Linked DNA regions of Homo sapiens. The protein of the gene in region 1 purifies or fractionates together with the protein of each later gene. This does not show direct contact. Each region holds a gene or a part of one and is shown in the gene's direction. Other genes may lie near its edges. The genes, in order: TSPAN15, LRRC8A, CMTM6, MAOB, ABCB8, TMEM63B and ZDHHC13.

The links.
Region 2: the proteins of TSPAN15 (region 1) and LRRC8A purify together in Homo sapiens (affinity purification with mass spectrometry; one large-scale study listed by BioGRID and IntAct). This does not show direct contact.
Region 3: the proteins of TSPAN15 (region 1) and CMTM6 purify together in Homo sapiens (affinity purification with mass spectrometry; one large-scale study listed by BioGRID and IntAct). This does not show direct contact.
Region 4: the proteins of TSPAN15 (region 1) and MAOB purify together in Homo sapiens (affinity purification with mass spectrometry; one large-scale study listed by BioGRID and IntAct). This does not show direct contact.
Region 5: the proteins of TSPAN15 (region 1) and ABCB8 purify together in Homo sapiens (affinity purification with mass spectrometry; one large-scale study listed by BioGRID and IntAct). This does not show direct contact.
Region 6: the proteins of TSPAN15 (region 1) and TMEM63B purify together in Homo sapiens (affinity purification with mass spectrometry; one large-scale study listed by BioGRID and IntAct). This does not show direct contact.
Region 7: the proteins of TSPAN15 (region 1) and ZDHHC13 purify together in Homo sapiens (affinity purification with mass spectrometry; one large-scale study listed by BioGRID and IntAct). This does not show direct contact.

What each region holds. Positions count from the first base shown.
Region 1 is NC_000010.11:69,482,465-69,485,964, forward strand, and holds part of TSPAN15 (tetraspanin-15), read left to right. Parts: intron 1-1,226; coding exon 1,227-1,412; intron 1,413-2,676; coding exon 2,677-2,751; intron 2,752-3,500. UniProt on the Homo sapiens protein: Part of TspanC8 subgroup, composed of 6 members that interact with the transmembrane metalloprotease ADAM10.
Region 2 is NC_000009.12:128,915,836-128,918,539, forward strand, and holds the end of LRRC8A (volume-regulated anion channel subunit LRRC8A), read left to right. Parts: intron 1-229; exon of another isoform or gene 230-260; coding exon 261-536; 3' UTR 537-2,204; downstream 2,205-2,704. UniProt on the Homo sapiens protein: Essential component of the volume-regulated anion channel (VRAC, also named VSOAC channel), an anion channel required to maintain a constant cell volume in response to extracellular or intracellular osmotic changes.
Region 3 is NC_000003.12:32,492,853-32,496,352, reverse strand, and holds part of CMTM6 (CKLF-like MARVEL transmembrane domain-containing protein 6), read left to right. Parts: intron 1-3,500. UniProt on the Homo sapiens protein: Master regulator of recycling and plasma membrane expression of PD-L1/CD274, an immune inhibitory ligand critical for immune tolerance to self and antitumor immunity.
Region 4 is NC_000023.11:43,767,451-43,770,950, reverse strand, and holds part of MAOB (amine oxidase [flavin-containing] B), read left to right. Parts: intron 1-1,532; coding exon 1,533-1,644; intron 1,645-2,234; coding exon 2,235-2,297; intron 2,298-3,332; coding exon 3,333-3,485; 3' UTR 3,486-3,500.
Region 5 is NC_000007.14:151,041,950-151,045,449, forward strand, and holds part of ABCB8 (mitochondrial potassium channel ATP-binding subunit), read left to right. Parts: intron 1-11; coding exon 12-159; intron 160-2,021; coding exon 2,022-2,272; intron 2,273-3,259; coding exon 3,260-3,400; 3' UTR 3,401-3,500. UniProt on the Homo sapiens protein: ATP-binding subunit of the mitochondrial ATP-gated potassium channel (mitoK(ATP)). Together with pore-forming subunit CCDC51/MITOK of the mitoK(ATP) channel, mediates ATP-dependent potassium currents across the mitochondrial inner membrane.
Region 6 is NC_000006.12:44,141,054-44,144,553, forward strand, and holds part of TMEM63B (mechanosensitive cation channel TMEM63B), read left to right. Parts: coding exon 1-45; intron 46-3,500. UniProt on the Homo sapiens protein: Mechanosensitive cation channel with low conductance and high activation threshold. Osmosensitive cation channel preferentially activated by hypotonic stress.
Region 7 is NC_000011.10:19,123,668-19,127,167, forward strand, and holds part of ZDHHC13 (palmitoyltransferase ZDHHC13), read left to right. Parts: intron 1-1,241; exon of another isoform or gene 1,242-1,505; coding exon of another isoform or gene 1,506-1,513; intron 1,514-3,500. UniProt on the Homo sapiens protein: Palmitoyltransferase that could catalyze the addition of palmitate onto various protein substrates. Palmitoyltransferase for HTT and GAD2. May play a role in Mg(2+) transport.

The sequences.
Region 1 (3,500 bases):
CTGCTCCAACCTTTGGCCTTCTCTGTGGTCATCCTGAAAGTAAATTCCGTGTTATGGTACTGTGTGAAATGTCTGTTGCCCTGAGCACGGGGTGACCTGCCTGTTTAATACGCGTTGTGGCGGCCTCGCACTTCCAGGTTTGTAGTGTTTCCACATTCATTCACTCGCGAAAGCCGTGGTGTGAGCAGTGCAGAAATGAATGTCTTCAAGTCTGTCTTTCAGATGAGAACACAGACTCACATGGTCAAATGCCTGTCCAAGGCCCAGGGTTAGCAAGTAGCAGAGCTGGGGCTCGAACCCATGTTCTCTGACCCTCCAGCCAGTGGCATTTCCCCTAACCCATCTATACTCTCCTCTAAAGTGGCATCTCCAGATTGGGTCTGTAGTAGTCTGCTAGGGCTGCCATAACATCAAGTACCAGACTGAATGGCTTAAACAATAGACATTTATTTTCTCACAGTTCTGGAGGTTAGAAGTCCAAGATCAAGGTGGCAGGGTTGATTTTTTTTTTTTGTTGTTGTTGTTGTTGTTTTTTGTTTTTTGAGACCGAGTCTCGCTCTGTTGCCCAGGCTGGAGTGCAGTGGCACAATCTCGGCTCACTGCAAGCTCCACCTCCTGGGTTCACGCCATTCTCCTGCCTCAGCCTCCCGAATAGCTGGGACTACAGGTGCCCGCCACTATGCCCGGCTGCTTTTTTGTATTTTTAGTAGAGACAGGGTTTCACAGTGTTAGCCATGATGGTCTCGATCTCCTGGCCTCGTGATCTGCCCGCCTCGGCCTCCCAAAGTGCTGGGATTACAGGTGTGAGCCACCGCGCCCGGCCTGCAGGGTTGATTTCTTCCGAGGCTTGTCTCTGGCTTGTAGACGCTGCCTTCTCCCTGCGTGTTCACACAGTCTTCCCTCTGTGAGTGTCTGTGTCATAATCTCTTCCCCTTATAAGGACACCAGTCATATTGGATTAGGGCCACCTTAGTGACCTCATTTTAACTTTAATTAGTTCTTTAAGGGCCCTGTCTCCAAATATAGTCACATTTCGAGGTACTGGGGGTTAGGATTTCAATAGAGAAAATTTGGGGAAACACAGTTCAGCCGCTAACAGGGCCCTTTCTGTGCTGTAACCTGGGGCAAGCCTCCCCCACAGCAGGTACCACAGCCCCAGATGACTCTTTGCTGTAGAAAATCAAGTGACCTCAGTCTCTCTCTCACCCTCTGTTTTCTTGCTGCAGCTGATTGGGGCCCTGGTCCTGTCTGTGGGCATCTATGCAGAGGTTGAGCGGCAGAAATATAAAACCCTTGAAAGTGCCTTCCTGGCTCCAGCCATCATCCTCATCCTCCTGGGCGTCGTCATGTTCATGGTCTCCTTCATTGGTGTGCTGGCGTCCCTCCGTGACAACCTGTACCTTCTCCAAGCAGTGAGTGGACCACACCACCCCTCAGCCGGGACTCCCCAGGAGAGCTGGGGCGCCTGCCCCTGTGCCCTTGGGCAGCTCAGTTTCTTTTGTCCCTGCCTCAAACCACCTCCTTTAGAGAGCTCCTTAGATCAGCCCATCTGACCACACTGGCCCAAGAATGCCCAGGCCACCTCCCCTCCTGCATGTAAAAGCTGATTTGAATACTGTTCTTACTTAAACTCTGTGTTCATCTGGATGCTCAGTTGCGAGTAGGAAAAACCACACTCAAATGAGAGCAAGCAAAGACAAAAAAAGGAGATGGTAGTGAGTCATTAGCTCATGCAACCAGCAAACCCACACTGGGTCCAGGGGTTTAGATGGCGCCACTGGGCAGGGTTGGGCAATCTCCCCAGCCCCTGCCAGCCGGGGCTGCTCCCTTTGCAGTGGTCACTGCCGGCGTCAGGCCAACAAAGTCCTTATGGTTCTAGATCTCAGGAAATCTTTCCTACCAGCTCTGGCCAAAGTCCCAGGACTCTGGTGGGCCTGGCTTGGGCCATGTGCCCATTCTGGGATGGGGCATGGGGAGTCAATCCTACCTGTATCCCATTATTGTGGGGTGAGGGATGACTCCCTAAAGCTGGGGGTAGTGAGTAGGCAGATCCATTCACTCTGCACTTGTGTGTCTCTTGACCTCATTGTCTCCCCTCATATGGGAAGCCCCTACGATCCACTGTAAACCGGGTTTGGGTGCTACTTGAGGCTGGAATTTGCTGAAATCAGTTTGGGTAATGCCTGCTCTCTAGTAAAGGGCAGAGGTGGGGGTGCATATCCTCTAAGCTTCAGCCATCCCCCTCACCCACTGTGGGGGATCTGGGAAGTCACATCTGAGGGCTCTCTGTGGGGAGCTGGACATACTGCCCCAGCCTGCCCATTAAGCCAGGCCTAGCCCCTCTGGCTCAGTGGCAACGAGGCCCAGCTCTCCTTATGGTGGTGGGGGAAGGGCGTGCTCTTCCACATAGACCCCCAAGACAAATGGAGGTAACCATTTGGCTGGGACAGCTGAGTCACTCTTCCTGCCCTCCGGCTCCAGAGACAGGTTTTCCTGGGGCCTGCCTGTCCACGTCCACGTTCTCACAGGAGGAGGGGGCAGAGGCCTAGGAGCTGGTAGGAGCTCCCCGAGGGATGCTTCTCTTTGTGCTTGCTCTTGGAGCAGATGGTGCCTCCCCTGTACCCCACACACGCCCACTGCTCCTCTCCAGGTGAGTCTCTGAATTCTGTTTTCCAGTTCATGTACATCCTTGGGATCTGCCTCATCATGGAGCTCATTGGTGGCGTGGTGGCCTTGACCTTCCGGAACCAGGTGGGCCTGTGGATTTGTGTATCGGCCATGTGTGTATGGAGCACCCACTGTGGGTGCCTTGGGCTAACTGGGGGTATGGCAGTGAGCAGGGCAGATAACCCCCATGGAGCTTTCATTCTGCTGAAAGAGAATGACAGGCACTGAACAAGTAAAGCAGCGACTAAGAAAATGAACCAAGCTGACATGAGAGCGCCTGGGGAGGAGATGGGAGGCCCGTGCTGAAATGGTAAAAGGAGCCAGCTGAGTGAGGTCCCAGCAGAGGGAAGCTGAGCAGAAATGAGCTTAGCATGTGAGCAAAACAGCGTGGAGGCCACGTGGCTGAGGGTAGGTGGGGTGGAGAGGGGTGGAAGGTGAAGTCGAAAGGGCTGGCCAGGCAGATCACAGAGGTCCTTGTAGGCCATGAGTTGGGAGCTTGGAGTTTTTTCTAGAGGTGACAGGAGCCTTTGGAGAGTCTTATGTGGGAAGCGATGTGACCCAGTTTATATTGTACCATGGCTGCTGAGTTGGGGAATGGACAGTGAAGAGTTGAGGGTGTACACAGGGGCCCAACTGGGAGGCTGTGGGGGGTCATCCTGGGAATGGGGTAAGATTGCTTGTACCAAGGTGGAGGCAGTGGGCCTGGGCCAAAAAGGCGATTTGATGTATATTTTGGAGGCAGTACCATCAGAGGCTGTTATGCCGGCTAGAGGAGTGAGGAGAGGGGCAGGTTGACAGGGTGATGCCTGGCATCCTGGCCCTGGCAGGGTTTG
Region 2 (2,704 bases), on another chromosome or scaffold:
GGAAGGATGAGCACTGCGAGTGGGGACATGGGGGCCATGAGACCCAGGAGATCAGGGAAGGCTTCCTGGAGGAAGTGAGCAAGAGCTGAGACCTGGTGCACAGGCAGATGTTGGCCAGAGTTTGGCCCAGATTGTGCTGATGCTGGGGGCCTGGGGATCAGAAAAGATGCTGAGATCTTGGGGAGAGAGGGAAGGGAAGCCCAGAGGCCCCGTCCAAGCCCACACCCACCTCACTCTCACCCCTGCTTTTTTCCCTCCAGATCGAGACGCTCCCTCCGGAGCTCTTCCAGTGCCGGAAGCTGCGGGCCCTGCACCTGGGCAACAACGTGCTGCAGTCACTGCCCTCCAGGGTGGGCGAGCTGACCAACCTGACGCAGATCGAGCTGCGGGGCAACCGGCTGGAGTGCCTGCCTGTGGAGCTGGGCGAGTGCCCACTGCTCAAGCGCAGCGGCTTGGTGGTGGAGGAGGACCTGTTCAACACACTGCCACCCGAGGTGAAGGAGCGGCTGTGGAGGGCTGACAAGGAGCAGGCCTGAGCGAGGCCGGCCCAGCACAGCAAGCAGCAGGACCGCTGCCCAGTCCTCAGGCCCGGAGGGGCAGGCCTAGCTTCTCCCAGAACTCCCGGACAGCCAGGACAGCCTCGTGGCTGGGCAGGAGCCTGGGGCCGCTTGTGAGTCAGGCCAGAGCGAGAGGACAGTATCTGTGGGGCTGGCCCCTTTTCTCCCTCTGAGACTCACGTCCCCCAGGGCAAGTGCTTGTGGAGGAGAGCAAGTCTCAAGAGCGCAGTATTTGGATAATCAGGGTCTCCTCCCTGGAGGCCAGCTCTGCCCCAGGGGCTGAGCTGCCACCAGAGGTCCTGGGACCCTCACTTTAGTTCTTGGTATTTATTTTTCTCCATCTCCCACCTCCTTCATCCAGATAACTTATACATTCCCAAGAAAGTTCAGCCCAGATGGAAGGTGTTCAGGGAAAGGTGGGCTGCCTTTTCCCCTTGTCCTTATTTAGCGATGCCGCCGGGCATTTAACACCCACCTGGACTTCAGCAGAGTGGTCCGGGGCGAACCAGCCATGGGACGGTCACCCAGCAGTGCCGGGCTGGGCTCTGCGGTGCGGTCCACGGGAGAGCAGGCCTCCAGCTGGAAAGGCCAGGCCTGGAGCTTGCCTCTTCAGTATTTGTGGCAGTTTTAGTTTTTTGTTTTTTTTTTTTTAATCAAAAAACAATTTTTTTAAAAAAAAAGCTTTGAAAATGGATGGTTTGGGTATTAAAAAGAAAAAAAAAACTTAAAAAAAAAAAGACACTAACGGCCAGTGAGTTGGAGTCTCAGGGCAGGGTGGCAGTTTCCCTTGAGCAAAGCAGCCAGACGTTGAACTGTGTTTCCTTTCCCTGGGCGCAGGGTGCAGGGTGTCTTCCGGATCTGGTGTGACCTTGGTCCAGGAGTTCTATTTGTTCCTGGGGAGGGAGGTTTTTTTGTTTGTTTTTTGGGTTTTTTTGGTGTCTTGTTTTCTTTCTCCTCCATGTGTCTTGGCAGGCACTCATTTCTGTGGCTGTCGGCCAGAGGGAATGTTCTGGAGCTGCCAAGGAGGGAGGAGACTCGGGTTGGCTAATCCCCGGATGAACGGTGCTCCATTCGCACCTCCCCTCCTCGTGCCTGCCCTGCCTCTCCACGCACAGTGTTAAGGAGCCAAGAGGAGCCACTTCGCCCAGACTTTGTTTCCCCACCGCCTGCGGCATGGGTGTGTCCAGTGCCACCGCTGGCCTCCGCTGCTTCCATCAGCCCTGTCACCACCTGGTCCTTCATGAAGAGCAGACACTTAGAGGCTGGTCGGGAATGGGGAGGTCGCCCCTGGGAGGGCAGGCGTTGGTTCCAAGCCGGTTCCCGTCCCTGGCGCCTGGAGTGCACACAGCCCAGTCGGCACCTGGTGGCTGGAAGCCACCCTGCTTTAGATCACTCGGGTCCCCACCTTAGAAGGGTCCCCGCCTTAGATCAATCACGTGGACACTAAGGCACGTTTTAGAGTCTCTTGTCTTAATGATTATGTCCATCCGTCTGTCCGTCCATTTGTGTTTTCTGCGTCGTGTCATTGGATATAATCCTCAGAAATAATGCACACTAGCCTCTGACAACCATGAAGCAAAAATCCGTTACATGTGGGTCTGAACTTGTAGACTCGGTCACAGTATCAAATAAAATCTATAACAGAAAGTGGCCTTTGGAGGTCTTTGTGTCATGGGAGGACGCTTCCCTCACTTCTCTGAAGCCTGCCGGGCCGTGTGGAACGTTGCTTGGGCACCTACAGGAGAGTTAACTCTGCTCATCTCCTGCCCCATGAGACTCTGTGCCTTTGGAGGCAGTTACTGGAGCTTGTAAGCTGGACGCAGCACCTGCTAGGTAACAGGCTGTGACCTGGGCTGGGGATCCCATAGCCAGCACAATCTCTGTCATCCTACTCACCTGTGGTTGGGCACTCATGAGGGGGTTTTTTTGTTGTTGTTGTTTTTTTGACAGGGTCTCATTCTGTCACCTAGAGTGCACTGCTGGAATATAGTGGCGTGATCACGGCTCACTGCAGCCTTGACCTCTCCAGGCTCAGGTGATCTCACCTCGGCCTCCCAAGTAGCTAGGACCACAGGGGCATGCTGGCTAATTTTTTTTTTTTTTTTTTTTTTTTGAGACAGAGTCTTACTCTGTCACCCAGGCTGGAA
Region 3 (3,500 bases), on another chromosome or scaffold:
GCCTTGGCTTCCTAAAGTGCTGGGATTACAGATGTGAGCCATCGCATCTGGCCGACAGAATTTCATATTGACTATAGCTTGTAGTGCCAATTTGTTGGCCTTTAACTTGAGATGGGAGCTAGTAAATGTCCACACTTTTTTTTTTTTTTTTTTTGAGATAGTCTCGCTTTGTCACCCAGGCTGGAGTGTAGTAGCGCCATCTTGGCTCACTGGAACCTCTGCCTCCTGGGTTCAAGCAATTCTCATGCTTCAGCCACCCAAGTAGCTGGGATTACAGGCATGCGCCACCATGCCCAGCTAATTTTTCTATTTTTAGTAGAGATGGGGTTTTGCCATGTTGGCCAGGCTGGTCTTGAACCAGGTTGGCCAGAAGGCCTCAAGTGATCTGCCCGCCTTGGCCTCCCAGAGTGCTGGGATTACAGGTGTGAGCCACTGTGCCCTGCCAGATGTCCATACTTAATATTGTACTCCTTGATTCTCTTAAGATGTCCAGGCAGAACCTGCTTCCTGCTATTGCTCTGAGGCAATAGGTCAGTAAGGTCAGTAGGAATGCCACCTGTTAATACGTTTGGAATAGGACTTGTAATGACTTGAGACTGACTGCTTCTGGACAAGCTGGATCCTGTCTTTTTTTACTGAAAGTAGACAAGCAGCCTATGTCTGTCCTACAGATAACCTTTTATTGCCATATAGCCTTCACACATGAGTGTGCCTAATAGTCTAATTGTAAAATGAGTGGTTCAGCTATTCCCAGACCCTAATTAGAGTTTTAGGCTGGTATCTTCTCTCAGTTAATTGACTTTTATACAACCGAGGTATATTTTGTAAATTTCTCAGAGAGAAACTTTTAAAACTTGGACAAGATTTAACATAGAGGCAAGAAAAAGGCAAGTGAAATGTTAGATATTTAGTATTTTATTAGACTATAGTCATGTTAGAACTCATCCTGTAAGTATGATTATAGGAGACTAAGGAAGTATCTTTACACAGTGGCCCTCTGGGATTTATCTTGGTGTTGTCACTTTATATCCTGTGGTGTAATGATTGGGAATGCCTTACCTAACACCTGTCTGAAGGAAGTTGTTTGGGACATGCTGGGCTATTTCATGCTTCACTAACTTACAGGAAATCAGAGAATGTAACCATTCATGTTACAATTAGACTATTTTTTTTCTTTTATATAAATTCTTTGCAGTTGTGGGGATGTATACATTTTGTATAGCCAGTAGAAGGGAGAGGAAATCCCTTAAAGGTTTGGATACCAGTATAGATTTGAATTACTATTTTTTAACTTTTTATTTTGAAATTATTATAGATTCACAGGAATTGCAAAAAAAAAAAGTACAGGGAGGTCCCACATTTGTATGTGCATGTGTGTGTAATTCTATGTAATTTTACCATGTGGATAGCTTTCTATAATTACCACCACAATCAAGACACAGAACTGTGCCATCAGCAGAGGCTTCCCTGTGCTACCCCTTTGTAGCCACACCTTTCCCCTTTCTCTTGGCTGCCACTAATTTGTTAGCCATCATTATTATTTTTATTATTCTAAGAATGGGCTATGAATGGAATCATGCAATATGTAACCTTTTGAGATTGGATTTTTTTTTTCCTTTGAATAATTCTCTGGAGATTCATCTAGGACATTACATATATCAAGTTTGCTCCTTTTTATTGCTAATATTCCATGGTATGGATGTACCACAGTTTGTTTTAACCATTGGACATCTGGAATGTTTCTAGTTTGGGGCTACTATGAATAAAATTGTTATAAACATTCACGTACCGGTTTTTGTACAAATGTTAAGTTTTCATTTCTCTGAGATAGTTGCCCAAGAGTTCTATTTCTGGGTCATATGGTAGATATATGCTTAGTTTTTAAAGAAACCGCTGAACTGTTGTTTGTCCCTTTTTAATGAAAATGTTTTGTAGGATAAGATATTTACTATTACTATGAAATGTATCTGTTGATTTTGGTAGCAATCTTGTTGCCATTAACCTGTCTGGTTGCTTCTACTGGCCTGACTGGAGTGAGAAGGGAATTCCCTTTAGCCTCTGACTTAGGTCATCAGTCATTTTGATGGTTTCGGCCCTCAGCAGGAAATTCCCTCAGCTTCCACAAAACCCACACAAACTGCCCAAGCAAAATACTCTTCTTCACTCTCTTCCCTTCTATTTCTAGAGAAGAGTTAGCCCCAAACCTGAGCCCTGAATCCTATCTTTAGAGAGCCATTTTTCTACCTATGTCTTTAGACCCACCCATCTTACTGGTTTCTGCCTAAGTATTTAAACATGCTCAGTTCTCCCATGTTGAAATTCCCTTCTCTTTGACCTCATCCACTACTGCCCTATCTGGCCATTCTTTCCCAGCCACACTTATTGCCTATGCTGTCTCTCCTTCACTGCCTTACCCTCCCCTTACTTCCCAATATACAGTATTGTAATCGAGCTTCTCTCCCTGACTACCCTGGAACTTTTCTTGCTAATGTCACTGGCAACCTTCTTATAGCTCAGTCTAAGGTAGGTGTTTCAGTGTTGTTCTTACTTGACCTTTAAGTAGCATTTAGCACTCTTGATTACTTGTGTGTTTGTGCATGTGTGTGTAAATACTTTTTTCTTGTTTACTACCCCTTTGATTGCTGCTGCTAGTTGTCCTTTGCTGGTTTCTTCCCCTCTGCATATCCCGTAAATCTTCAGATTCCTCAGATTTCCACATAAGGCTATCTTTCCTCATTTGAGTCATCTCACCCTCCCACTCTGCCAGCTCCCACATCTTTATCTGCATCTTAGACCTCTCCTTTGAGCTCCAGACCTTATATTCATTTGCTTTCCAACTACATCTTCACCAAACTCTTCCACAGACCTCCTCAATCACAGCATATTTAAAACTGAATTTCTTCTCTCCCTAGCACCCTTGCCTTTTAAAAAGAAAAAAACCTGACTCTTTTTTCAGTGAGGACCAGTATGTTAGTACCACATATACAGCAGTTGGAAGTAGTTAAAACCCACTTGCGTGTAATTGAGTTGCCAATTTAACCAGAGTTAACATTCTCCACTCACCATACCAAGCATCCTGACCTCACACCAGTCACCCACAGCCTGCCATGGCCAGTAGGCATCTCATTAGCACTCTAGAACTCTTGCTTCTGTCATCAGTTGAGTTGTGTTGTTCCCATACTGGTTTATGCTAACTATACTTTTATGGCCATACAGTTAAATATTACAAAGCTGAAACTGAGTGTTAAAATGAATTGTTTCTTTAAAACTAAATTGAATGCTTTGGAAAGACTGAAAGATAACTTACTACAAGATTTATCTGCCATGGAATTAAGGAAGAGCAAGGCAACTGTAAAAGGCTGGTAAAATAGTCTGACTCTAGAAAGATTCTGAACTCTGTTTCTCAAGTGTTTAAGATCTCACTTCACTTCAGATAACATCAGTCTGGAAGTAGTAGTCCATAGATGATGAAAGTGATTAATGCAGAAAACATGTGGAAT
Region 4 (3,500 bases), on another chromosome or scaffold:
GACAGGATGAATAATGGCATGTTGACGGTGCTTTCCTTATGGTATTTTTGTCAGAGCAACAATGAACTGCCCCTCTTACAGGCCAAGTGCTATGACATTTCAGTCCCTTGTATAGCATGTGGGCAGTCTACTAACTATTAAATATTATAGGGTGATGATACACCAGGCAAAGAATATAAGATAAAAATAGAGACTTTGACATCTGTTAGACATGGTTCAAATCCTGGCTTTGCTATTTTCTAGGAGTGTGGCTCTTGGCATATCACTGAACATTTCTCCAAGCCTCAGTCTTCTCATATGTAAAAATGAGATAATGATAATAGTAGCTACATCACAGAGTTCTTTAATAGATTGAAGAAATAATGCAGTAGAGAGAGGAAGTATAACTAAGTGGTTAAGACTGTAGGTTCCAGAGTCAGATTGCCTGTGTTCAAATACCAACTCTGCTACTTACTAGCTGTGACCGAGAGCAAATTACTTTGTCTTTGTTGCTGGTTAGGTTCCAGGAAGCAGACCCTGAAACAACGATTAGCAGACAGGATATATATTAAGGCATGCCCTTAGGATTGGCAGCTGTGGAAGGGAGAAGGAAGCAGGAGTGGGCATAGGGAGAACTTGGGCTGCAGTGCAGTTCCAGTGAAGGCCTCAGCTGACCCCAGAGGAAGTTCCAGAACTAGAATGGCCCTTCAGAGTGGGAGGTCTCAAGTTGGAGCTTGGGAATCAGGTATTTACAGCCCGTGGTGATCAGTCACTGGATGCAACTGCTATTGGAAGGAGGCATGACCTAGTAGGTAACATAGTTTTTTTTAGCAGAGGCAATCTCCAAAGAGGGCTGACATCAGTAGGCCCTCTTCTGGCAGCACTCCCAGCAGCTGGGAATAAGTCTTTCATTCTTGAAGGGGGCCTGCGTGGTTCATCACAATGTCCACCACAGTCTACCTCCATATTCTTATCTGCAAAATGGTGATAATAATAGTACCGACCTCACCAGTACAGGCAAGTGTTCAAGGAATAGGAGTTATGGAGCCATAGTCAGACTCTCAGATTTGTTAAATGTTACTGATTGAAAGGGTCTTAGAAATCAGTGGACCATTCCCTTTAAGAGGCAAGGAAGCCAGAGCACAGTGAGAGTAAGTGATTTGCCAAGTTCACTAGTGGAATAGCCAGTGGGGAATTGGGGGCATGTATCACCTTGCCACAGAGCCAGTGAGCCATAAAGGGAGCCATGTGACTGGGCTTACACAGTCCCTCACTTCATGTTGATGAAGCAAATACATAATTTACGTCCATTAATGTCAGCTCCTTCACCTGCAACTCTTGGTGCAGGAGTGAACTTTGGCTTTTATTCTATTTTGTTTGTGACAAGGATCATGTAAGAGCTGGAGGAACCACATAAACATTATTCCAAAATTGCCAATGTCCTTCTTGATTGTTTAGAATCTGTGGAAGCTGACCAGCATTGGTCTTTATGGGAAAACTTTTCTCTGACTCTCTGAGACTGACCACTTTTGCCTCTTTGGTTTTGTTCCAAGGGTTCTACGCCAGCCAGTGGACAGGATTTACTTTGCAGGCACCGAGACTGCCACACACTGGAGCGGCTACATGGAGGGGGCTGTAGAGGCCGGGGAGAGAGCAGCCCGAGAGGTAGGGTCTGGGGTCATAGATTATGGGGAAGGAGGCAACTCATGGTCCTGACATGTAGGTCAAAGATATCTGAGAGCCTGGAGACCAACTCTCCAGTAACCCCCATCTTAAGACCCATAAAATACTATTTTAACTATTGTCTCAGGTGAAGTGAACACCTTAGCCCGAAGTAATAATGAAAATACCTAACATGTCACCCGAAGTAAAAAGAGCCCATGGGGCAAACGATCAACCTGACTATACTTGAAAGGTAACCTAGGTCTGATATTCTAGAACCAAACATGCTTCTATTAGGACTCAAAATTCAATTCATTTCACAGGAAAGATTTTCTGACAGTTCCTCTGATGTCATCCCTATTTGAGGTGTGTTCATAACTATTAAAATTTATGGTAAGCCTAATGATTGGAACCTCTTATACCACAGGAGAAAGACCTTTTGGCGCCTCTTAAAGGTTGTATGGAGTGTTCTGGCCTTTACCTTGGTGTTTTTGATGGATATCTCAAGAGACAGTTACTTAGTCCTTTAGGGAGCAGATTAGAAGAAAGATGGTGTCACTTTTGCTATTTGCCAGTGTGTTCTTTCATTTCAGATCCTGCATGCCATGGGGAAGATTCCAGAGGATGAAATCTGGCAGTCAGAACCAGAGTCTGTGGTAGGCTATGTTTTATTTCATGAAATTAGATATCTTTTCTCTAAACCCATTATTTTCAAGAAGAGCACACTTGTATATATTCACATACCTTTTCCTAAGTGATTCAACTAAGTGATTTAAACATGAATGTTTAAATAAGTATCATGGGTTAGGGTAGAGGTGAGAGATTTAGATGAACTTTGATAAATTTGTAGCTGTCACATTCATTACAGATTATTAGGAAAAAATATTTTTTGATGAGGAGGGAGACATTTCTCGGAGACTTCTAAAAATAATAACTCAATAAATGCCTGTCAAATAAATATCTAGCCTGGTGATTCTCCACATGAGGTAGGAAAAGAAAGGAAAGTGTGTTAGCATCTCCTGTCCAGGGACAAACAAATGGAATGAAATGGAGAATATTTAGATTAAAATTTTATTTTTAATATACTCATCATTTTTGTAATAAAATCCTAGGAAGTTTTCCTGGCTGGAAGGAGGGATGCATAGAGGTTAGAGTGCAAACGCACTTTAGAGGACAAAGTCACAAAGGTCAGAATTATTGCTCTATCCTTTTAAGTGTGAAGTCAAAGAGAATAGGCCTGCCACTCCACAGTCATTCTCTTAGTGCTTCTGCCAGGGATGGGATTGTGGGCTGTAGGGACCATTGATTCATTTACTAACAAGTATTTATGGCACACGTGTTCTGTATCAGCCATTGTGGCAAAGGCACAGCAGCATTTTTGTGGAGCTCAACATCTGGTGGAGAATGCAGATGATAACCAAAAAGTACAGAACAGTGAAGAAGACATGCTGAGAAAAAATGCAAAAGGAGAATGTCATCCTAGGCTGGGGTCTCAGGAAAGAAAGCCTCCCTGAGGAAGTGAAGGGTCCAGTGAGGAAGACAGGGTAAACAGTATAAGCAGAGGGAACATCGTGTTTACTGGTCTAGACGTTGGCAAGAATGGGTCATGTTCAGAGAGCTGGAGAAAGTACAGACTTTCTGGAATAAAGTGCACAAGCCCTGTACTAATACCCAATGTTTTCTGAACCTAGGATGTCCCTGCACAGCCCATCACCACCACCTTTTTGGAGAGACATTTGCCCTCCGTGCCAGGCCTGCTCAGGCTGATTGGATTGACCACCATCTTTTCAGCAACGGCTCTTGGCTTCCTGGCCCACAAAAGGGGGCTACTTGTGAGAGTCTAAAGAGAGAGGGTGTCT
Region 5 (3,500 bases), on another chromosome or scaffold:
CTCACCCACAGGAGCCCGTCCTGTTTGGGACGACCATCATGGAAAACATCCGCTTTGGGAAGCTGGAAGCTTCCGATGAAGAGGTGTACACAGCCGCCCGGGAAGCGAATGCTCACGAGTTCATCACCAGCTTCCCCGAGGGCTACAACACGGTCGTCGGTGGGTGCTCGGGTCTGCCGGGAACCAGGTGGTGAGGCACTGGGACACAGGATTCCACAGGAGCAGTGAGCAGCCCAGTGGGACTGAGGGCAGCAGGGACAGCTGGGGAGAAAGACAGTTGTGTCAGGGAAGACGAGAACCACAGCCAAAGGGGACAGAGTCGTTGTGTGGGGACAGGGGAGTCCAGGCCAGTGTGGTTCAGAACCAGCAGACCAGGCAGGCTGCAGAGACAGGACGGGCTCTAGGAGGAGCTGGAGAATGCGACAGAGGGCATATGACAGGCTCCTGGCCAGGGACACAGTGATGCATGGTGTTTGGAGTCCTCACCGAGTCTAAAAGGCCGCCACTTCCCCAGACTGAACAGAAGAAATGGGGGGCTGCCTCCTCTCCACCATCCATCCCCCTCTGGCTCCTGTTTCCTTCCTGTGCTTTTCATCTCTAAAGTCGTTTCTCATTAGAATCGGGGTGACTGGATGGGCCCCAGGAGAGGGCTCTGGTGGTTCTGAACTAGGAACACGCAGCCTGGCACTGCAGGGCGTGCACCTTGCAGCTTGACGTGCGGAGCTCCCAGGTCTTTTTCCAGCCTTCGGGGCCATGTTTCTCGGCCAGTGTCTTGGCTCTGTTGCACAGTGTTTCAGCACTTCTCAGGATACAGGGATACCTGGGCTTCTCAACTCTGGTCAGTCTGAGTCCAGCCTTCTGAGCTGTGGGGCCAGTGTCCCCAGCCCAGCCATCGTGTTCTAGATGGCTCCTCCAGCCGTGTTGATACACTGTCCAGATGCCAGCTGTCCTCACTGGGTGCTCTCCCACATCTCTTTTGGGTGGCACTTTCCTTGTGTCTCTGATCCTAGTACTTTCTGCTCATTTGGGCCTTCTTGGGGCTGCGTCCTTACTGACCTGTCACCCTGCTGTCACCTTGAGGTTCTTTTTGGCTCCCAGGCTGCCACTTGTGCTGTCCTCTGTGGGCTTCGAATCCCACCTCCCTGGAGTCACTGGACCCCAGAGCCCATGTTTGGGTGCTGGATGTTCCCCACAGCCACAGAGACCCGGGAGGCTGGGAAGGTGGCTTGGAACTGCAGGCACAGGGCAGGGTGTGGGTCATCCTGGCCTGAGGCACTGCCATGGCTGGGGAGGGGCATTTGGCAACTCCCTTGGAGTGCACCAAGCCCTGCTGGCGGTGTCACACCACCCTCAGAGGCAGGGCAAGTGTGCACAGTGGCTGAGGGACCCAGAGGTGGGATGAGCCAGTGCAGGGGGAACCCAGAGGAGGAGTGTACACAGTGTGGGGTGGGGGGTCAGAGGCAGGAGGAGGGTGCACAGTGCGGGGTGGGGGTCAGAGACAGGACTAGGGTGCACAGTGCGGGGTGGAGGGTCAGAGACAGGACTAGGGTGCACAGTGTGGGGTGGAGGGTCAGAGACAGGACTAGGGTGCACAGTGCGGGGTGGAGGGTCAGAGACAGGACTAGGGTGCACAGTGTGGGGTGGAGGGTCAGAGGCAGGACTAGGGTGCACAGTGCAAGGTGGAGGGTCAGAGGCAGGACGAGCGTACACAGTGCGGGGTAGAGGGTCAGAGGCAGGACGAGGGTGCACAGTGCGGGGTGGGGGGTCAGAGGCAGGAGGAGGGTGCACAGTGCGGGGTGGGGGTCAGAGGCAGGAGGAGGGTGCACGGTGTGGGGTGGGGGGTCAGAGGCAGGAGGAGGATGCACAGTGCGGGGTGGGGGTCAGAGGCAGGAGGAGGGTGCACAGTGCTGAGAGGGGCACTTAGAGGATCTTGATGGGCGTTCAGGAAGGACCCTGTGCCCCTTTGTGGGCCACCCTCAAGTGCACAGCTTCAGGCTCCTGCCCTGCCCCTCCCTTCCCAGGTGAACGGGGCACTACCCTGTCTGGGGGCCAGAAGCAGCGCCTGGCCATCGCCCGAGCCCTTATCAAGCAGCCCACGGTGCTGATACTGGATGAAGCTACCAGCGCGCTGGATGCAGAGTCCGAGCGGGTTGTACAGGAGGCCCTGGACCGGGCCAGTGCAGGCCGCACGGTGCTGGTAATTGCCCACCGGCTCAGCACTGTCCGTGGGGCCCACTGCATTGTCGTCATGGCCGATGGCCGTGTCTGGGAGGTTAGTTGTCCTGGGGGCGTGGATCAGTGGGTTGAGGATGGCTTCATCACGGACAGTGGCACAATGCTGCAATGAGTTATATGAAGTTGTGGCCTGGCCCCAGGGCCTTGGGGGCTATATTCTGGAAGCAGCGTCCCATATAGAGTCAGGAGTTCCTGCATTCAGCCAAGCCCTGGCCTCTCAGGCCCTCAGTTTCTTCTTCTGTCCCCTGGGATAGTATAATTGCACCATCAGCTCCCAGGATCAAAAGGAAAAGTACTAGCCGGGTGCCTGTAATCCCAGCACTTTGGGAAGCCAAGGCAGAAGGATCTCTTGAGGCTAGCCTGGGCAGCATAGCGGGACCCTGTCTCTACAAAATACCAAAAAAAAAAAATTAGCCGGATGTGGTGGCATGCACCTGTACTCCCAGCTACTCTGGAGGCGGAGGCGGGAGGATTACTTGAGCCCCAGAGGTTGAGGCTGCAGTGAACAATGATTGTGCCATTGCGCTCCAGCCTGGCATCAGAATGAGACCCTGTCTCAAAAAACAAAAAGGAAACATACTCAGAGTATGGTGCTGGGAGCAAGGAGCAGGGCTAGCTGCCCAGGGTATCAGGTGCAGGAGAAGCAGCGCCAAGGAACCTGTGCAGGGAGTCAGGAGTAGGACCCCAGAGGCCGTGTGGCGTTGGCTAACAGCCACTCATTCAAGCCAAGGCTGAGGGGCTCGTGCAGGGAGACGGATCCTGAGTTGGAGCCTTGGGCTCTGTAAGGGGGACAGAGGGAATCATGTTCTTCCAAAATTCAGCTAAGTAAGGAAGTGGCAGTAACTAATGCAGCATGCCAGTGGCGGTTCCTTTCAGATTGGGCATTGGTTTCAGAGTGTCCCCAGAAGGGACACCGGCCTAAGTGACCATGGGCCCAATGGCTGATAGAGAGGCTCAGCTCTCTGAGGGTTCTGAAGCCTGCATGCCTTGGAGCAACCATCCGCCCTTCCCTCCCATCTTCCAGGCTGGGACACATGAAGAGCTCCTGAAGAAAGGCGGGCTATACGCCGAGCTCATCCGGAGGCAGGCCCTGGATGCCCCGAGGACAGCGGCCCCACCGCCCAAAAAGCCAGAAGGCCCCAGGAGCCACCAGCACAAGTCCTGAGAAGGGCCCCCTGAGGTGTGGTCGCTGCCAAGCATCAGTGTTAGGGCTGGGGCTCAGCCTGGGGGAGCCTACTGGGGACTGAGCCCCCAGGAGGGCCAGC
Region 6 (3,500 bases), on another chromosome or scaffold:
AATCTCCAAATATGCAGAGTCAGAAAAGATCAAGAAGCATTTTGAGTGAGTAAGCCACGCTTCCCCCTACCCTCAAGCCCTGCTGCAGAGCCTTCTCTGCCTTTGAACTCTAAGAACATCCTTATACCCTAGCCTGGAGCTCTGCCGTGGGTGGGATAGAGATTAGATCCAGGAAGAAATGTCCGATTCCAGGGTGGTTTAGCACTTGGGTCGGGTGATAGGCCCCTTTAAGAACAGGAAAAATAAGACAAAAACCTGAAGAGTGAGTCATTCAAACCCCCTAACCCCCAAACCTCCTCCTGGCTCAGACTGGGTCATAGGTTGTTGACCCAGGTCCATTGGAGTACATATCTTCTTCAAAATTAAAAGCAGCATTCTGGAGTTTGTGTGCAGCCATGACAGGGAGAAGCTCCTTGGTTTCCAGTGGATTCCAAGGAGTCCAGGAGAACTTGAACTGTGTATTCTCTGAGGCTTTTTCAGCTCTAGAATTATGTTTTGGGGTGGGTAGAGCAGACCTATGGCCAGAAACTAGAGAAAAGGGAGGTGGTATAATGAGGCAAAGAGGGAACTTACCTGGTCACCCCATGGCTAGGGATGCACCTTGGGGCGCAGCTCATAGGGTGGGGAATCAGTGAAGGGCCCCTCCATGGGGGTGTGTAGGGACAGTCTCTATACCACAGGATTAGGGCTACTCTCACACAGGCATCTGTTCACTCAGCAAACTTTCTCAAGTGCTGTTAGTCATAAGTTACTGTGGTGGGCTTTGGGACTGTAAAAAATGAATGAGGCCAGGCATGGTGGCTCATGGCTGTAATCCCAGCACTTTGGGAGGCCAAAGTGGGCAGATCACTTGAGCCCAGGAGTTGAAGACCAGCCTGGGCAACATAGCAAGACCCCATCTCTACCAAAAAATACAAACTTAGCCAGGTGTGGTGGCGTGCGCCTGTAGTCCCAGCTACTTGGGAGGCTGAGGTGGGAGGATCGCTTGAACCCAGGAGGTCGAGGCTGCAGTGAGTCCTGTGCACCACTGCACTCCAGCCTGGGTGACAGAGCAAGACCCTGTTTCAAATGTTTCAAAAAATAAAAAATAGAAGAGGCCAGGCACGGTGGCTCACGCCTGTAATCCCAACACTTTGGGAGGCCCAAGATGGGAGAATTACTTGAGGCCAGGAGTTCAAGACCAGCCTGGTCAGTATAATGAGACCCCATGTCTTAAAAAAAAAAAAAAAAAAAATCATTGAGGGCCGGGAGTTTGAGACCAGCCTGGCCAATATGGTGAAACCCCGTCTCTACTGGTGAAACCTTGTCTCTACTGAAAATACAAAAATTAGCCAGGCATGGTGGCGCGTACCAGTAGTCTCAGCTACTCAGGAGGCTGAGGCAGAAGAATCGCTTGAACCCAGGAGGCAGAGGTTGCAGTGAGCCGAGATTGTGCCACTGCACTTCAGCCTGAGCGGCAGAGCGAGACTGTCTCAAAAAAAGAAAAAAAAATCATTGAGTTCTCAGGGGGTTCATAGTATGGCAGTCGGCTTTAGGAGCTAGTCCAGGGTCTGATCAGAGATTGCTCTGAGGTCAGTCTGTGGTCAGAATCAGGAGCTGGCCAGTGGTCATGATAAAGGATGCTGGTGGTCTGGATCATGGCCCAGACTGAGGTTGAGATTTGGGCTCAGTCTACCATCAGAATCAGGGTTTAGGCCAGGTGTGGTGGCTCATGCCTGTAATCCCCTTGAGAAGATTGCTTGAGCCCGGGAGTTTAAGACCAGCCTGGACAACATGTCGAAACTCCATCTCTACAAAAAATATAAAAATTAGCCAGACATGGTAGCATGCACCAATAGTCCCAACTACTCAGGTGACTGAGGTGGGAGGATGGCTTGAGCCCAAGAGGCTAATGCTGTGGTGAACTGATTGCGCCACTGTACTCCAGCCTGGGTAATAGGGCAAGACCCTGTCTCAAAAAAGAAAGAAAGTAAAGAATCAAGGTTTAATCTGAGGTCCAGACCTGTCAGTTGGCCAGAATCAGAGTTCACTCATTGTCCTGGGTCAGGCCAGTGTGTGATCCAATCAGAGATAGTGTTTGGGCAGGATTGAGAGTGAACATCTATCTGGTCAGGGTCAGATTCCAGAGCCTGTGTTAGAAGATTAAGGACTGGTGTGTGATCAGCATTAGTAGATGGATACTCTTTCATACTACATGCAGTTATTGACAACCTTCTATGTGCCAGGCACAAATAAATTAGAAACAAGCCCAGCCCTTATACAGGCTATAAAACAGCAGTCAAAATTAGATCATTCTTGTCAGTATGAGAGAACTATTTGGGGTCCTATCTGAGGTTCAAGCTGTCATCAGCATTAAAGGGCACTCTGGGTCAGGATTAAGGACAGTGTGTACTCAGAATTAGTGACATCTTTTTTTTTTCTCATACCATCTTTTGTAACAATGAATTAGGTGACATCTTAATATTACCATCCAGTTGGAATCAGTTGTCAGCTTGTATTGAAATCTGGTGTTTGTTGTTTTTGTTTTTGTTTTTGTTTTTTGATACAAATATCTAGTGAGCACCTGCTATGTGCCTGCTTGGGGAGGAGCTGGGGGTATAGCAGTAAACGACAGAAGGCCTGCCCTCATTTGCTTTCATTTTAGTGGGGAGGGGTGGACAGGGACCGGATGAACTAGTAATAGAGACTGTGTCAAGAAGAGGTAGGTGCTAAGAAAACCACAGCAGGGAAGCAGGCAGGGTAAGAGGGGTTGGGAAGGGTTGCTATTTCTGATGGGATAGACAGGGAGGGACTCTGACAGCGTGGCATTTGAACAGAGACCTGAGTGAACCCTACTAGTCAACTGTCTATTCATTCAGCCCACATTTATTGTATACCTACTATGTGCTTCATGCCTGGGAGACAGAGTATAATCAGACCTGATCAGTGCCCTTGGGAAGCTGAAGATCCTAGTTGTGTTTCAGGGGTTGGTCTATAGTTTTGTTTAGGAGAGGTCAGCCTATAAGCAGGGGTAAGGGAGACTCTAGTCCTAATTGGAGTTTTTTGGATCACTGGGATGAGCATTATGGAGTAGCCATTTCATTGATCCGCTCATTTACCACATGTGTATTGAACACCTGCTATATACAAGCTGTTGGGACAGGGCTGGGTATATGGTGAGGACTAAGAGACAGCGCTTGAGCTCATTGTCAGGATTAGGCAGGGCTTGTGGTCCAAGTCTGCAGTCTGTCTGGATTGGAAGACTGTCTCAGCACAATTAGGAAATATCTTGCATGCAAATCAACGGGCCTGTGTGGTTGGATTTAGAGGATTAGAGATGAGTTTAGTGAGAATGAGAGCTCACCCTTCCAAAGGGGAAACCTCAAATGGTTTGAGGAACAATATCAGAGGAAAGGTCTCTAGCCTCCTGGGAAGTACATCTCAAGGACCCTATCCCAGATTTAAGTTTCTAAATTCTCATGGGTTTATGAGGACTATCTTAATACTTTAGAACAGTAACT
Region 7 (3,500 bases), on another chromosome or scaffold:
TAATCTTTCTAACCTACAAAGAGAAACAGATATGTGCAATTCATTAGAAAAACAAGTAGACTATGAAAAGGCAATCCACAAAAGAGAAAATATGGAGAGCCAGTATACCTAACAACAACAACAACAACAAACAAAACACTCAGACTCATTAGCAACTAGGGGAGTACAGGTGAAAGATAGGATGCCATTTTTAGCCATCAAAGTGTCAAGGTTGTAAAAAGATTGATAATATTCAGTTCTGGGAAGGTTTGTAGGGAGAAAGAACACGTATATACTTTGCTATTGGGACTGTGAATTGGGGAGAGTATTTGGTCAGAATCTATTTATGTTTAAAATGCACGTTTTTTGACTCAACAGTCCTACTTTGAGGAATCAATCCTATAGAATTAGAATGCCCAGGGTGTTGATTGTGTATAGATATGAAAGGCTGAAATCAACCTGTGTCTCTAACCAAAGGGGAGTGTTGAATGAATTATACTAGATCTATATACAATGGAACAATAGTGAAATATTACTGAACTGCAGGACTGTACATGATATATTGTTACATGAGAAAAGCAAGTTGAAGAATAATGTATATAATGTGATACTATTCTTTGTTCAATAAGTATAAGAAGAAAATGATTAAAAATGTGGATGTATGTATGTATATAGCACAATATTATATATGTTAAAATATATATACATAATGAGGGAAGATGCACCCAATTGTTAATAATGGTTATCTCTGGTGGTACAGTATTGAAGAGGAAAGAGTCCGGATTGTTAACCCTGTATTCACTTCTGTATTGCTAGATCTTTAAAATTAATATGTTATCATTTTATGGTTTTAAAATTCTAGTAAAAATTTTTTATATAAAAATACACTGATTTTTTTTGTCAATCTTAGCTGCACTTTTTGTTATACCTGTTACTTATTGAGATTCTAGAAATTTTTAGTATAGTTCAACTCTTTTCCTCAACCCTTTGCCTTCTTCCAATTGAATATAATTACTGTGATATCAGGAAAAGCATCCTAAAGTAATGTTTTTATTTACATTTTAATCTAACTACCTACATGTTTATTTTTAGCTGTGTGTGATTCTGCGTGTGTGTGGGGGGGTACTGATTATTTACCAGATAAATCAGAATTTACCTATTCAGAAAAGCAGGTGGACTGAAGAAGAAAAAGACCGGAATTCAAAAACCACCAAATCAGTAGCTGATTTACCTTTTTTCTCTCTGATTTGCCCCCAGCCTTGACTTGAGCCCTGGAAATAAGCATCAGTGCAGACGAGTGCTCTATGAGAAGCTATCTAGTTAAAGCTCAAGGAGCCACAAAGGGATTTCCTGGCAGCACAGTCACCAGAAACACTGAGGGAGAACTCTCTGAACAGAGGAATTGTGACCCCAAGACAGTAGTTTTTAGACGTGACACCAAAAGCACAATCCATAAAAGAACAAATTGATAAATTGGACTTTTTTAAAATTTAAAACTTCTGCTCTATGAAACAGACTTTTAAGAGATGGGAAGGTAAGGTACAGACCAGGAGAAAATATCTGCAAATCACATATCTGACAAAAGACTTGTATCTAGAATATATAATATAAAGAACTCTCAAAACTTAACAGTAAGAAAACAAACAGCTCAATTAAAAAATGGACAAAAGACTTGAACAGACACTTCACCAGAGAAGATATACAGGTGGCAAATAAGCATGTGAAAAGATGCTCAACTTCATTAGCCGTTAAGGATATGCAAATTAAGACCATGATGAGATGCCCCTATACATCTATTAGACTGACAATCCCAAGTGCTGGTGAGAATGCAGAACAATTGTAACTCTCATAGTTGTTAGTGGCAATGCAAGGTGATATAGCCAGTCTGGAAAATAGTTTAGCAGTTTCTCATAAATTTAAATATACCTAACATATGGCCAAGCAGTCTTATTCTTAGAGAAATGAAAGGATGTTCACACAAAAGTTTGTCCACGAATATTTTTAGCAGCTCTGTTTATGATTGCCAAAAGCTGGAAAACAACCCACGCAGACTGTTTGGATAGATTATCTGTGACGCACCCATATAGTGGGATACTACACAGCAGTAAAAAAGAAGGAATTATTGATAACATACAACAACTTGGTTAAATCTCAGCACCATTGTGCTGAGTGGAGGAAGCCCCTCCTAAAAGATTGTGTACTGTATGATTCCATTATATGACATTCTGGGAAAGACAGAATTAATGACAACAGATCAGTGGTTGCCAAGAGTTGGTTGGGGTTACGGGAGGGTATGACTGCAAAGGATGATGGTGGCGGTTACGTGACTCCATACATACATGTGTTAAAATTCATACAGCTGTATACCAAAGTTAATTTTACTGTAAATTAACTTTTTAAAAACAGTGCCCCTTCAAAATAATCCCTTGAGGGATTATGGACTCATTTAAGTAAAACTGAAAATTTTAAAACTTTCTTTTAAAAACTTTTGTTTTAGGTTTGGGGATACATGTGCAGGTTTGTTATATACACAAACTTATGTCATGGGGGTTTGTTGTATAGATTATTTCCTTACCCAAGTATTAAGCCTAGTACCCAGTAGTGATTTTTTCTGCTCCTCTCTCTCCTCCCACCCTCCACCCTCAAGTATACCCCAGTGTCTGTTGTTCCCTTCTTCTTTTTTTCTTTTCTTTTTCTTTTTTTTTTTTGCAGTGGAGTCTTGCTCTGTCACCCAAGCTGGAGTGCAGTGGTGTGATCTCGGCTCACTGCAACCTCTGCCTCCCAGGTTCAAGTGATTCTCCTGCCTCAGCTTCCCAAGTAACTGGAACTATAGGCACATACCACCACCCTGGCTAATTTTTTTTTTTTTTTTTTTTTTTTTTTAGTAGAGACGGAGTTTCACCATGTTGACCAGGCTGTTCTTGAACTCCTTACCTCAAGTGATGCACCCACCTTGGCCTCCCAAAGTGCTGAGATTACAGGCATGAGCCACCATGCCCAGCCTGCTGTTCCTTTCTTTGTGTTCATGAGTTCTCATCATTTAGCTCCCACTTATAAGTGAGAACATGCAGTATTTGGTTTTCTGTTCCTGCATAGGGGTAATAGCCTCCAGCTCCATTCGTATTCCTGCAAAAGACATGATCTCATTCTTTTTTATGGCTGCATAGTATTCCATGGTTTATATGTACTACATTTTCTTTACCCAGTTTGTCATTGATGGGCATTTACATTGATTCCATGTCTTTGCTATTGTGAATAGTGCTACAGTCAACATTCACATACATGTGTCTTTATAGTAGAATGATTTATAGTCCTTTGGGTATATACCCAGTAATGGGATTGCTGGGTTGAATGGTAGTTCTGCTTTTAGCTCGTTGAGGAATCGCCATACTGCTTTCCACAATGAACTAATTTTCACTCCCATCAACAGTGTATAAGCATTCCTTTGTCTCTGTAACCTTGCCAGCATCTCTTATTTTTTGACGTTTGAATAATAGCATTCTGACTAGTGTGAAGTGGTA